Regions from separate parts of the Homo sapiens genome. Here regions 2 and 3 are each linked to region 1. The links come from fine-mapping of genetic effects on gene expression. A gene starts in region 1. Each other region holds a variant in brackets. All regions are shown on one strand. Distances are from middle to middle.

Region 1 (4,243 bases):
TGTTGCCCAGGCTGGTCTCAGATTCTTGGGCTCAAGCGGTCCTCCCACCTTGGCCTCCCAAAGTGCTGAGATTATGGGTGTGAGCCACCATGCCCAGCCTGACACAGCCATTCTTAAAAGAAGACATACAAATGGCCAACAGGTTTGCGAAAAAAAAAATCACTATTATTAGGGAAATGCAAAATAAGATTACAATATCACCTCACACCTGTTAGCATGGCTATTAAGCTGGGTGTGGTGGCTCACACCTGTAATCTCAGTACTTTGGGAGGCTGAGGTGGGCAGATTACTTGAGGGTCAGGCGTTTGAGACCACCCTGGCCAACATGGTGAAACGCCATCTCTACTAAAAATACAGAAATTAGCCAAGTGTGGTGGCACATGCTTGTAATCCCAGCTACTTGGGAGGCTGAGGCAGGAAGATTGCTTGAACCCAGGAATGGAGGTTGCAGTGATTTGAGATTGTGCCACTGCACTCCAGCCTGGGCAACAGAGTGACTCAATCTCAAAAAAAAAAAAAAAAAAAAAAAAAAAGAATTGCTATTATCAAAATGATGAAAAAAATGTGTTGCTGAGGATGTGGAGAAACCTTTTACACTGTTAGTGTTATTACAGCCATTATGGAAAACTATATGGAGGTTTCCCAAAAAATTAAAAATAGAACTACCATATGATCCAGCGATGCTATTTCTGGGCATATATTGAGTAACTGAAATCAGTATATCAAAGACTTATTTGCACTTCCATGTTCATTTCAGCATTATGCACAATCGCTGAGATAATGGAATCAACCTGTGTCCATCGATGGATGAATGGATAAAGAAAATGTAGTAAACATATGCAATGGATACTATTCAGCCTTAAAAAAGAATTTCTGTCATTTGTGACAACATGAATCAACATATGCAATGGATACTATTCAGCCTTAAAAAAGAATTTCTGTCATTTGTGACAACATGAATCAACTTGGAGGACATACTAAGTGAAAAAAGCCAGGCACAGAAAGACACATACCACATGATCTCACTTATATGTGGAATCTTAAAAAGTCAAACTCATAGAAGTAGACAGTAGAATAGTTGTTAGAGGCTGGAAAGGGACGGGGCGGGTAGGAGATGCAGGATGGGGAGATGCTGTTCAAAGGGTACAAGGTTCAGTCAGACAAAAGCAGCAAGTTTCTGAGATCTATTGCATAGTGTGGTGACTATAGCTAATAATAATATATCGTATATCTCAAAACTGCTAAGAGTAAATTTCAAATGTCTCACCATAAAAAACGTTAAACAAGGTGATGGATATGTTAAGCTTGACTTAGTCGTTCCATATTGTATACATATATTAAAATATAACATTGTACCCCATTAAATATTTACAATTATGATTTGTACATATATTTAATAATAATAAAAATCTAAATAAAATATTAAAGAATGCCTACAAAGCAAGGTTTAAGATGTAAATGAACACAGTAGTATCACGGAAGGGATTAAATATTGTAACATTTATTGAGCACTACGTATATATTTTTGAATTCCCACAACCCTGGAAGAATGAGAAAATCGAGACTCAGGGAGCGTTAAGTATTTTGCCCAACTGCATACGATAAATACATAGGAAAAACAAACACACAGAAGAAAACCAAACCAACCAAAGTATCTCTTTCAAAAGGAAACGACAGTCTCCTTAAAGGCAACCCGAGACAAATTTCAGCAAAGCCGTGGGACACATGGCCTTCGAGCTGCTGTCCATTATTGAGTAGCAGAAGCCAAGAAGGATGGAATGTTTTGGAAGAAAGGGGTCGGGGGTCGGGGTGTTCAAAGGACGGACCGAAGGTAAGATTGAAGTGGGGTCAGACCATGGCGGGACAGCGCACCGGAGAATGAACAGCGATTAGGGAAGAGTGGCGAGCGGGTGGCAAGGACGGAGGGCGGAATCCCGGCCGGGGCTGCGGGAGGAAAGCGCACGGACAGGAGCCCCACCGCTCGAATGCAGCGCCCGGCGGCTGGCCTCGTGAGGTCACAGGCCCTTACGAGGTGGGGCAGGCAGGCGCGGCCGCAGTGCCTTCCAGTCAGCGCGGAGGCGGTATTGAGTTCAGCCGCTCCCCACAGCCCCGGAGCCCCTGGGCGGTGGCGGTGGCCGCGGCAGCACCGGCTCGACAGCCGATAGGGTCCTGGGCCCGCTCCGCTCGGGGTGGTCGGTGGGCGGAGCGTCGGGCTCGGTCAGGTGACCGCGGGGGCGGGGCCGCGCGGCGCGGGATCCTGGGAAGGCTGCAGAGCTAGAGCAGCGCCGCCCGAGGGGCGGCAGGGGCTGACCACAGAGAGCGCGGGGGCCTCCAGCCGAGAGGAAGGGAGGGCAGCTCGGGCCGGTAGTGGGACCCTTGGGGGACAGAGGTGGGGAGGGGAGGCGAGACCCGCTGAGGAGTTGGGAGGGGAGCCTTCGAGGTGGAGGGTGGAGAATGCAGTAGGGTGCGAGGGAGGAAGGAGAACAGTGGTGGGGCTGGGTGAAGGAAGGTTCCAGAAAGGAACAGTGAGGGGACTGAGTGGGACAAAGGGGCAGATTGAAGGGTGACTGAGACTGATCAGGTGGTTCCTCAGAAATGGTGGTTGTTGTAGAAGGCTGGCGGTCCCGGGGGTGGTGTCACTTCCCTGCTCCTTCAGCGGGAGGCGGAGACCTCTATTAGCACACTCATTTCCATCTTGCGGGTCGTTCACTCGCTAGCTTACAGGTCCTCTTTCTTCCTGTAGAAGTCGTTGGCTTCGTAAGAGCAGGGTCTATGGGAAGCCTCCTCAGCGTGGGTTCTTGGAAGAGGTGGAGGTTCGTTCACTCGACGTTTGTTACACAAATATGAAAACAGGGTGACGAAAGTTTGAACGTTCATGAATGGCAGTAGCTGCAATGGAGTTGTGTATGCAGTTGGTATTAATGACGTTTTCAGTCCCTCTGGCGAGAGAAAAGCGAGCGAGTCGGGCGGCTTGTGAGGGAAATGTGGCATGAGAGGAAAGAGGAAGGTATTTTGTGAAAGGATGTCATACAGAGTCATGCTTCAGTGAAGACGCCTTTGTTTTTCTCATCTTAAAGCCTCACAGCCCCATTTTCCTCTCAGCTACTGCCTTATTTCTCTTAACAACGTAACTCCTTGAAAGAGCCTACCCTACTGGCTGGGTTCAATTTCTTTACCCCGTTCTCTCTTGTACTCACTCTGACGACATTGTCTCCTTACCACCCCACCCAGATGGCTCCTTTCAAGTTTGTCAGTGTCCTCCGTGTTGTGAAACCTAGCGAACCATTCAGTACTGATCTTAACCGCCCACCCCACCCCCCTTTTTTTTTTTTGAGACAAGGTCTCTGTCGTCCAGGCTGGAGTGCAGTGGTGCAATCATAGCCCACTGCAGCTTCAAACTCCTGGGCTCAAAAGATCCTCCTGGCTCAGTCTTTGGAGTAGCTGGGACTAAGGTCGCCATGTCCAGCTGATTAAAAAAAAAATTCTGTAGAGGTGGGAGTTTCACTGTTGCCCAGGCTGGTCTTGAACTCCTGGCCTTAAGCAGCCCTCCTGCTTAGACCCCCACCCCCGCATCAAAGTGTTGGGATTACCTGCATAAGCCACCATGCACAGCCTGATTGCTCACTCTTGAAGTACTTTCTTCACTTGGCATTCAGGAACCCAGACCTACCTGATTTCCCTCCTCACAGTAACCAGAGTGATCCTTTCAGAAAGAACTTCAGATTATGTAATCCTTCTCCTCAGAACTCTTTCAATGCTTGTCACTCCTTCAGAGTACAAGCCACAGTTCTTACTGTCATCTAGGGGTCCTCCATGATATGCCACTTTCACTTAGCCTCTCTGATCTCTCCTGCTTCAGCCTCCTGGGGCCTTCCCACTATTCCTTGAACATTCTTCTTGCCTCGGGGCTTTTGTACTTACTTTTCTTTCTGGCTGAAATGCTCTTCCCTAAGATATTAATCAGCTCCCTACTTCAGTTCTTGCAGGTCTGTACTCAAAAGTCTCCCTCTCAGTAAGGTCTTCCTTGGCCACCCATTCTGTTCCCTGCATCTCTTCCCCTATACTACATTTCATATTCCCCTCCCTGCTTTACTTTTTTTTTTGTACTTATTGCAGATAACATACAATATGTTTTATTTTTCTATTTTATTATTTCACTCCCTGACTAGAACATAAGCTTCATGAGGGCAGATTTTATATATATATAAACAAAATATATATATATATATATATATATATATAT
Region 2 (4,243 bases), 83 kb before region 1:
GGGGTCCCACCGCCGCCACTGCCACTCCCACAGCTGCTCCTGTCGCCACTGCTGGCTCCTCCCTGCTGCAGCTGGTGTGATGGTAAGCCCCTGCTTCGGATGGCCCGCTGCTGCCATCAGTAAGGATAGTCTTGCTACAAAATCACTCATATTTTTATGGTTTTTTTTTTAATTTTTAATTTTAGAGGCGAGGATTCGAACCTCTGAGTTCATGCCATCCTCCCATCTTAGCCTCCTGAGTAGCACATGCCACTGTGCCTGGCTAGCTCATATTTTTAAGGTACTTTTTTCCCCGTCTGTCTTGATGAAAAAATACAACTTAAAAAGTTGGCACAGATAAACAGAGCTGGGGCTTATATCTTATAACCTATGTAATTAATATCATAGCCAAACCTTCACATGCTTCCTTCCCATCCTCTGCCATATTACAATTAGATTTTGAGGGACTTTGGGAGTTCTATCCCCCTACCTTGAAGGGTATCCATGGTCACCTGCCACAGTGCCCCAAATATCCATTATTAATTACTTTTTGGGGGTGTAGGCATTGAAGGCTTCTGGGTATGGCTTGACTATTGAGTGTTTGGCCTCTGAAGCCAGAATGCCAGAGTTTAGAACTGGAGACTCCTCTTCCTTTCTGCACCTTGGCATCCTTCTCTCTAAAATGGGGATGAAAACAACACCCACCTCATTAAGGGATGTTGTGAGGATGTTACAAGGTAATATGTATGAGGCATTTATTAGAATAACACCTGGCCCAAAATGAGCCCTCAATAAATGTCAGATGTAAAGTTATCAACATTCTTGTCCTCTTAGCTTAAATCTTATTCAGTGCATTGCCTAGTAGAATTCTGAGGCACAACGAGTCCATTTTATGACCTGAGCAAAGGAAAGCGTTAGGAAACAGGGCATTCATTAACTAGAATGGTCTTAGGCTGAAAGTTTTACCATGTACAGAATCCTCTGAGCATTTAAGGGATCGGTGTGCAGGCAAAGAGTTCCTAGGGAAGGACCAAAGAATCAGGGTGAGGCAGACAGAGGATGGCGGTTGAGAGTAACTGCCCAGGGACGGGGAACACAGCCCTTGGGGTAGGCACAGGTATCTGAGTCCCTGAAGCGAGGAGAATGGAGCCAGAGGGGTGGAGAGGAGAGGGAGGAGGCAGGACCAGAGAGGCAGAGGAGCGCTCCTGCCAGGGGTCCTGTGCAGTGAAGGAGGTGAGGCCTCACGGCTGCTTCCTCAGGCCTCATGGCTTCCAGGCAGGTCTTACTGGGTTGGAAACACATAGGGCCATGGGGGAAGTGAGACATGCTTGCTAATCATACTTCCAGCTCACAGTCATCTCTCTGTTTGTCATCCTTTCAAGGAAAAGCTGTATCCCAAGGGCCCTCTGTTTAGCTCAGACCTTGGCCCAATGCCCAGGTTTTTCTGGTGCCACTATCATATCTCAGGATTCAGCCAGACATGGTTGGTAACTTCTTGTAATAGTCAAGACAGGAAGTGGTCAGGACCTGGAAATAGAGCAGCCCTTGGGGGTGGGTAGGACTGACCCAGCTCTGGGTGCCTCCTCAGGCTAGTGGCACAGAATTCCTGGACTTGGCCTGGGCTGCAGCGACGCTAGAGATAATGTCTTTATGGATTTCCCAATTTTATCTCAGACAATGGGAAATCTAGTAGTGTTTTATGACAAACAGGAATTTCTCCCATTATCATAGCAATGCTGACTTGAAACATTTGGGAGTGCCTGACATTCTATACCCACACTTACAGTAAGGGAGACAGTAGGTTGTAGGGTAAGCACTGAAGTCAGGCTGAACTTTTCTGAACCCCATCTTTGCCACTAACTCCCTGGTGCTCTTGAGCTAATTACCTCATCTCTCTGTGCCTCCATTTTTTCACTTGTAAAATCAGGATTTCCCCACGTATCTTACCGCAGACTAAAAAAAAGAAAAGTATGAAAGAATGCTTAGCATAGTATCTTGAACACACTAACCTCAAAATAAATGGCATCTAGTAAAATCATCATCATCATCATCATCACTGTCTCTTCGCCCACCAAGCTTCAGTTTGCACCTCTATAAAATGAGGATTGAGGGAAATAATCAATATTTGCAATATTTGTATAGAAGGTGGTATATGGTAGGTGTTCTCAAATTCTAGTTCCTTCCCATGGAGGAAAGCCAGACGCTGGGGAAGAGGACCTGGGTCAGCAGCTCATGTGCTGAGGGGAAGTGGGGTTGGGGGAAGGGAGGTCAGTCCCTGGCTGGAGTAGACCTGTGGAGTTAACCCCCTCTGCTGAGTAGAAATGTCGGGGACTGGACAATGGACTGGCACTGAATTCAGGCAGATTTGGGAGAACTGACTAGGTCCTGCTACTCCAGAGAAGCTGGTGAGTGGCAGGCTGGAGTAGTGAAAGCAGATAGCTGACAGTGTGGGTATTGGCTATAGCAAGGGCCTTCCTGAGTCCTCAGTGGCCCAAACTAGCCT[C/T]ATGGTGTTCTAGATCCTAGGATTCCTCTGGAGCAATTGTTCTTTTTTTTTCTTATTATAGATATGTTTTTAAAAATTTCAATAGCTTTTGGAGTACAAGTGGTTTTTGATTATATGGATGAATTGTATAATGGTGAAGTCTGATATTTTACTGCACCCATCACCTGGGTAGTATATATTGTACCCAATATGTGTTTTTTTTATCCCTCAACCCCCTCAACCTTCCCCCTTCTGAGTCTCCAAAGTCCATTATACCACTCTGTTTGCCTTTGCATACCCATAGCTTAGCTCCCACTTATAAGTGAGAACATACAGTATTTGGTTTTCCACTCCTGAATTACTTCACTTAGAATGATGGCCTCCAGCTCCATCCAAGTTACTGCAAAATACATTATGTCCTTCCTTTTTATGGCTGAGTAGTATTCCATGATGTCTATATACCACATTTTCTTTTTTATTTTTGAGACCGACACTCGCTCTGTCGTCCAGGCTGGAGTGCAATGGTGCAATCTTGGCTCACTGCAACCTCTGCCTCCCAGGTTCAAGTGGTTCTCCTCCCTCAGCCTCCCGAGTAGTTGTGGTTACAGGTGTGCACCTCCATCCCCAGCTAACTTTTGTATTTTTAGTAGACACGGGGTTTCACCATGTTGGCCGGGCTGGTCTCGAACCCCTGATCTCAGGTGATCCACCCGCCTCGGCCTCCCAAAGTGCTGGGATTACAGGCATGAGCCACCATGCCCAACTACTACATTTTCTTTATCCACTCATCAGTTGATAGGTACTTAGGTTGATTCCGTATCTTTGCAGTTGTGAATTGTGCTGTGATAAACCTACGCATGCAGGTGTCTTTTTGATGCAATGACTTCTTTTCCTTTGGGTAGATACCCAGTAGTGAGATTGCTGGATGGAGTGGTAGATCTACTTTTAGTTCTTTAAGAAGGTGGAACAATTGTTGTTAACCCTAGAGGTCACAGACCCGTTTGAGAAGCTAGTGAAAACTAAGGAGCATTTCTATAGAAAAATGCATATCACACAAATGTTTGCATATTAGAGGGGCCTCACAGATCCCCAGGAACTCATCAAGGGACTTCAGGTGAAGAAACCTGGTGGACTTGTCCCAGCAGCACTAATTAAGCCCAAGGACTAGACACTAGATCCACCCGTGGGTTGGCACAGGGCACAGGACCTGATCCAGGAGCTGTCAGAGGATGCTCAGTTTGACTGGTAAAGACAGTACCCAGACAGTATGCAACCTCCTCCTGCCTCCATTCAGCCAACATTGTCCAGGGAGCTAGAGATGGGCAGCAACAATGAAAATCAGTAGGTATCCTGACTCGTAGGCAGAATGTGGGGGTAGATTAAACCAGCATAGATGAGTTGATCCTAAGAGGAAAAAATAGCTCTTATTTATTTGTTTATTTATTTACTTACTTACTTACTTTTAGAGATGGGGTTTCACCATGTTGTCCAGGCTGGTTTTAAACTCTTGGGCTCAAGGGATCCTCTCCTTGGCCTCCCACAATGCTCACACCTAAAATCTCCCACACAGGGATTATAGGTGTGAGTCACCATGCCCACCATTTATTGAATACTTATTACATGCTAATTACTGTGCTAAGTGGCTGAAGCAGTCCTCCCACCTCAGCCTCCCAAGTAGCTAGGACTACAGGTGTGTGCCAGTGCACCCAGCTAATTTTTAAACATTTCCGTAGAGATGAAGTCTTGCTTCGATTCTCAGGCTGGTCTTGAACTCCTGGGCTC
Region 3 (4,243 bases), 110 kb after region 1:
AGTATCAAAGAATTTGGGGACGTGTGTTAAAATAACCACAGTAATTAATAAATATTTTGGAGGAGATACTTTGAGACTGTGCAAGTATTCTGTTTCTCCTCTAAGTTTCTCCCACTAATTTTAGCATTCATTGGCAGATGAATTGCTAGCCTGTAGCAATTATTACTGTGTTGTTCTAATGTTGATTTTCTACTTCCCTCATTCCTTCTACATTTTAAAATTATTTGAAATTCTTCGGCAGGGACGATTTATTCCTTCACTCCCATTAATTAATTAGTAATATGTCTTTTAATTAAACCATGTGGTTAACTTACACTTATGAGATTACTAAAGTATTTGGCTTTAAATCTACCATTTTACTAGTACTTTCTATTTCAGCCACCTGTTCCATATTTCCTTTTCTCTTGGATTTTTTACTTTAAAAATTACTCAATTTCTTAGACAATAGCAAAACAAATATGACAAAATGATATAAAATCCTTTTGGTGTGATAAGTATGTTCATTATTTTATTGTGATTATTGTTTATTTGTGTTTACAAATGTCAAAACTTTGTCAAATACCACAGTTTAAAAGTTGCTGTCTGTTGTGATCCAGAGCAATCAGACAAGAGAAAAAAATAAAGGGTATCCAAATCAGTAAAGAGAAAGGCAAACTGTCACTTTTCATCGATGATATGATCATATACCCAGAAAACCCTCAAGATTCATCCAAAAAGATCCTAGATCTGATAAATGAATTCAGTAGAGTTTCAGGATACAAAATCAGTGTACACAAATTAGTAGCACTGCTATACACCAACAATGACCAAGCTGAGAATCGAATCAAGAACTCAATCCCCTTCACAACAGCTACAAAAAAAAAATAAATAAATACTTAGGAATATACTGAACCAAGGAGGTGAAAGATCTCCACAAGGAAAACTACAAAACACTGCTGAAAGAGAGTATCAGTGACACAAACAAATGGTCATGGATGTGTGGAATCAATGCTGTGAAAATTACCGTACTGCCAAAAGCAATCTACAGATTCACTGCAATTCCCATCAAAGTACCATGATCATTCTTCACAGAACTAAAAAAAGTCCTAAAATTCATATGGAACTAAAAAAGAGCCTGCATAGCCAAAGCAAGACTAAGCAAAAAGAACAAATCTGGAGCATCACATTACCTGTCTTCAAACTATACTGCAAGGCAGTAGTTATCAAAACAGCATGGTACTGTTATAAAAATAGGCATGTAGACCAATGGGACAGAATAGAGAACCCAGAATTAAAGCCAAATACAGCCAACTGATCTTCGACAAAACAAACAAAAGCATGAAGTAGAGAAAGGACATCCTATTCAACAAATGGTGTGGGGATAATTGGCAAATCACATGTAGAAACACGAAACTGTATCCTCATCACTCACCTTATACAAAATCAACTCAAGATGGATCAAAGACTTAAATCAAAGATTTGAAACCATAAAAATTATAGAATATAACATTAGAAAAACTCTTCTAGACATTGGCTTAGGCAAAGAGTTCATGACCAAGAACCCAAAAGCAAATGCAACCAAAACAAAAATAAATAGATGGGACTTAATTAAACTAAAAAGTTTCTGCAAAGCAAAAGAAATAATCAGCAAACAGACAACCCACAGAATGAGAGAAAATATTCACAAACTCTACATCTGACAAAGGGCTAATATCAAGAATCTACAAAGAACTCAAACAAGTCAGCAAGAAAAAAACAAAACCATCAAAAAGTGGGCAAAGGATATGAATAGACAGTTCTCAAAAGAAGATATACAAATGGCCAACAAACATATGAAAAAAATGCACAACATCACTATTTGTCAGGGAAATGCAAATTAAAACCACAGTGAGATACCACCTTACTCCTACAAGAATGGCCATAATTAAATTGATGT[C/T]GGCATGGATGTGGTGAAAAGGGAACACTTTTACGCTACTGGTGGGAGTGTAAACTAATAAAACCACTATGGAAAACAACATGGAGATTCCTTAAAAAACTACAAGTAGGTCTTTTGACTCCTTGGTTCAGTATATTCCTAAGATTTTTTTGTTTTTGTTTTTGTTTTTTTTGCAGCTATTGTAAAAGGGGTTGAGTTCTTGATTTGGTTCTCCACTTGGTCACTGTTGGTGTATAGAAGAACTACTGATTTGTGTACAGTAATCTTGTATCTGGAAGCTTTGCTGATTCTTTTATCAGTTCTAGGAACCTTCAGGAGGAGTCCTTAGGGTTTTTGAGGTAAACAATCATCATCTGCAAATAGTGACCGTTTGACTTCCTCTTTACCAGTTTCGATGCCTTTCTTTCTCTTGCCATATTACTCTGGCTAGGACTTCCAGTACTATGTTGAAGAGGAGTGGTGAGAGTGGGCATCCTTGTCTTGTTCCAGTTCTCAGAGGGAATGCTTTCAGCTTTTTGCCATTCAGTATTATGTCGGCTGTGGGTTTGTCATAGATGGCTTTTATTACATTAAGGTATGTCCCTTGTATGCCTATTTTGCTGAGGGTTTTAATCATAAAGAGATGCTGGATTTGTCAAATGCTTTTTCTGCATGGTCATGTTATTTTTGCTTTTAATCTGTTTATGTGGTGTATCACATTTATTGACTTGCATATGTTAAACTATCCCTGCATCCCTGGTACGAAACCCACTTGATCATGGTGGATTATCTTTTTGATATGTCGTTGGATTCGGTTAGCTAGTATTTTGTTAGGGATTTTAGCATCTACATTGATCAAGGATATCAGTCCGTAGTTTTCTTTTTTGGTTATGTCCTTTCTTGGTTTTGGTATTAGAGTGATGCTGGCTTCATAGAATGAATTAGGGAGGGTTCCTTCTTTCTCTGTCTTGTGGAATAGCGTCAAAAGGGTTGGTACCAATTCTTCTTTGAATGTCTAGTAGAATTCTGCTGTGAATCATCTGGTCCTGGACTTTTTTTGTTGGTAATTTTTAATTACCATTTCAATCTTGCTGCTTGTTATTGGTCTGTTCAGGATACCTAATTCCTCCTGATTTAAGCTAGGAGAGTTGTATTTTTCCAGGAATGTATCCATGTCTTCTAGGTTTTCTGATTTATGTGCGCAAGGGTGTTCATAGTAGCCCTGAATGATCTTTTGTATTTCAGTGATGTCAGTTGTAATATCTCCTGTTTTGTTTCTTAGTGGGGTTATTTGGATTTTCTCTCTTCTTTTCTTGGTTAATCTCACCAGTGGTCTATCAATTTTATTTATCTTTTTAAAGAACCAGCTTTTTGTTTCATTTATCTTTTGTATTTTTTTTTTTCAATTTCATTTAGTTCTGGTCTGATCTTTGTTATTTCCTTTCTTCTGCTGGGTTTGGGTTTGGTTTGTTCTTGCTTCTCTAGTTCCTTGAGGTGTGACCTTAGAGTGTCAGTTTGTGCTCTTTCAGTCTTTTTGATGTAGGCTATGAACTTTCCTCTTAGCACTGCCTTTGCTGTATCCCAGAGGTTTTGATAGGTTGTGTCATTATGGTCATTCAGTTCAAAGAATTTTAAAATTTCCATCTTGATTTCATTTTTGACCCAATGCTCATTCAGGAGCAGGTTATTCAAATTTTCTTGTATTTGCATGGTTTTGAAGGTCCCTTTTGGAGTTGATTTCCAGTTTTATTCCATTGTGGCCAGAGAGAGTGCTTGATATAATTTCAATTTTCTTAAATTTATTGAGGCTCGCTTTATGGCCTATCATATGGTCTATCTTGGAGAAAATTCCATGAGCTGTGAATAGAATGTGTCTTCTGCAGTTATTGGATGAAATGTTCTGCATACATCTGTTAAGTCCATTTGTTCCAAGGTATAGTTTAAGTCCATTGTTTCTTTGTTGACTTTCTATCTTGATGAACTGTCTAGTGCTGTCAGTGGAGTATTGAAGTCCCCCACTATTATTGTGTTGCTCTCCACCTCATTTCTTAGGTCTATTAGTAATTGTTTTGTAAATTTGGGAGCTCCAGTGTTAGGCACATATATGTTTAGAATTGTGATATTTTCCTGTTGGATAAGGCCTTTAGCATTGTATAATGTCCTTCTTTGTCTCTTTTAACTGCTGTTGCTTTAAAGTTTGCTTGTCTGATGTAAGGATAGCTACCCCTGCTCACTTTTGGTGTCCATTTGCATGAAATGCCTTTTTCCACCCCTTTACTTTAAGTTTATTTGAGTCCTTATGTGCTAGGTGAGTCTTCTGAAGGCAGCAGATGATTGGTTGGTGAGTTC

The links. PIP is the estimated chance that this variant, and not a neighbour inherited with it, causes the effect.
Region 2: its variant is the best candidate, but not a certain one, in a credible set for the expression of EFCAB13 in subcutaneous fat (GTEx, PIP 0.72).
Region 3: its variant is the best candidate, but not a certain one, in a credible set for the expression of EFCAB13 in whole blood (TOPMed, PIP 0.54).

What each region holds. Positions count from the first base shown.
Region 1 is chr17:47,321,711-47,325,953 of GRCh38, forward strand. EFCAB13 (EF-hand calcium binding domain 13) reads left to right here and starts at 2,245. Exons shown (of 25, transcript NM_152347.5): 1 at 2,245-2,364; 2 at 2,744-2,813. EFCAB13-DT (EFCAB13 divergent transcript) reads right to left here and starts at 2,191. Exons shown (of 3, transcript NR_110880.1): 1 at 1,979-2,191. RefSeq lists a silencer at 1,974-2,383 and enhancers at 2,724-2,813, 2,854-3,033.
Region 2 is chr17:47,238,782-47,243,024 of GRCh38, forward strand. No RefSeq gene overlaps it. Among named protein-coding and RNA genes, the nearest start is that of ITGB3, 13 kb to the right of the region's middle. RefSeq lists an enhancer at 1-392. The variant C/T (reference allele first, on the strand shown) is at 2,483.
Region 3 is chr17:47,433,461-47,437,703 of GRCh38, forward strand. The region is part of intron 24 of EFCAB13 (EF-hand calcium binding domain 13); the gene reads left to right. Among named protein-coding and RNA genes, the nearest start is that of NPEPPS, 96 kb to the right of the region's middle. The variant C/T (reference allele first, on the strand shown) is at 1,916.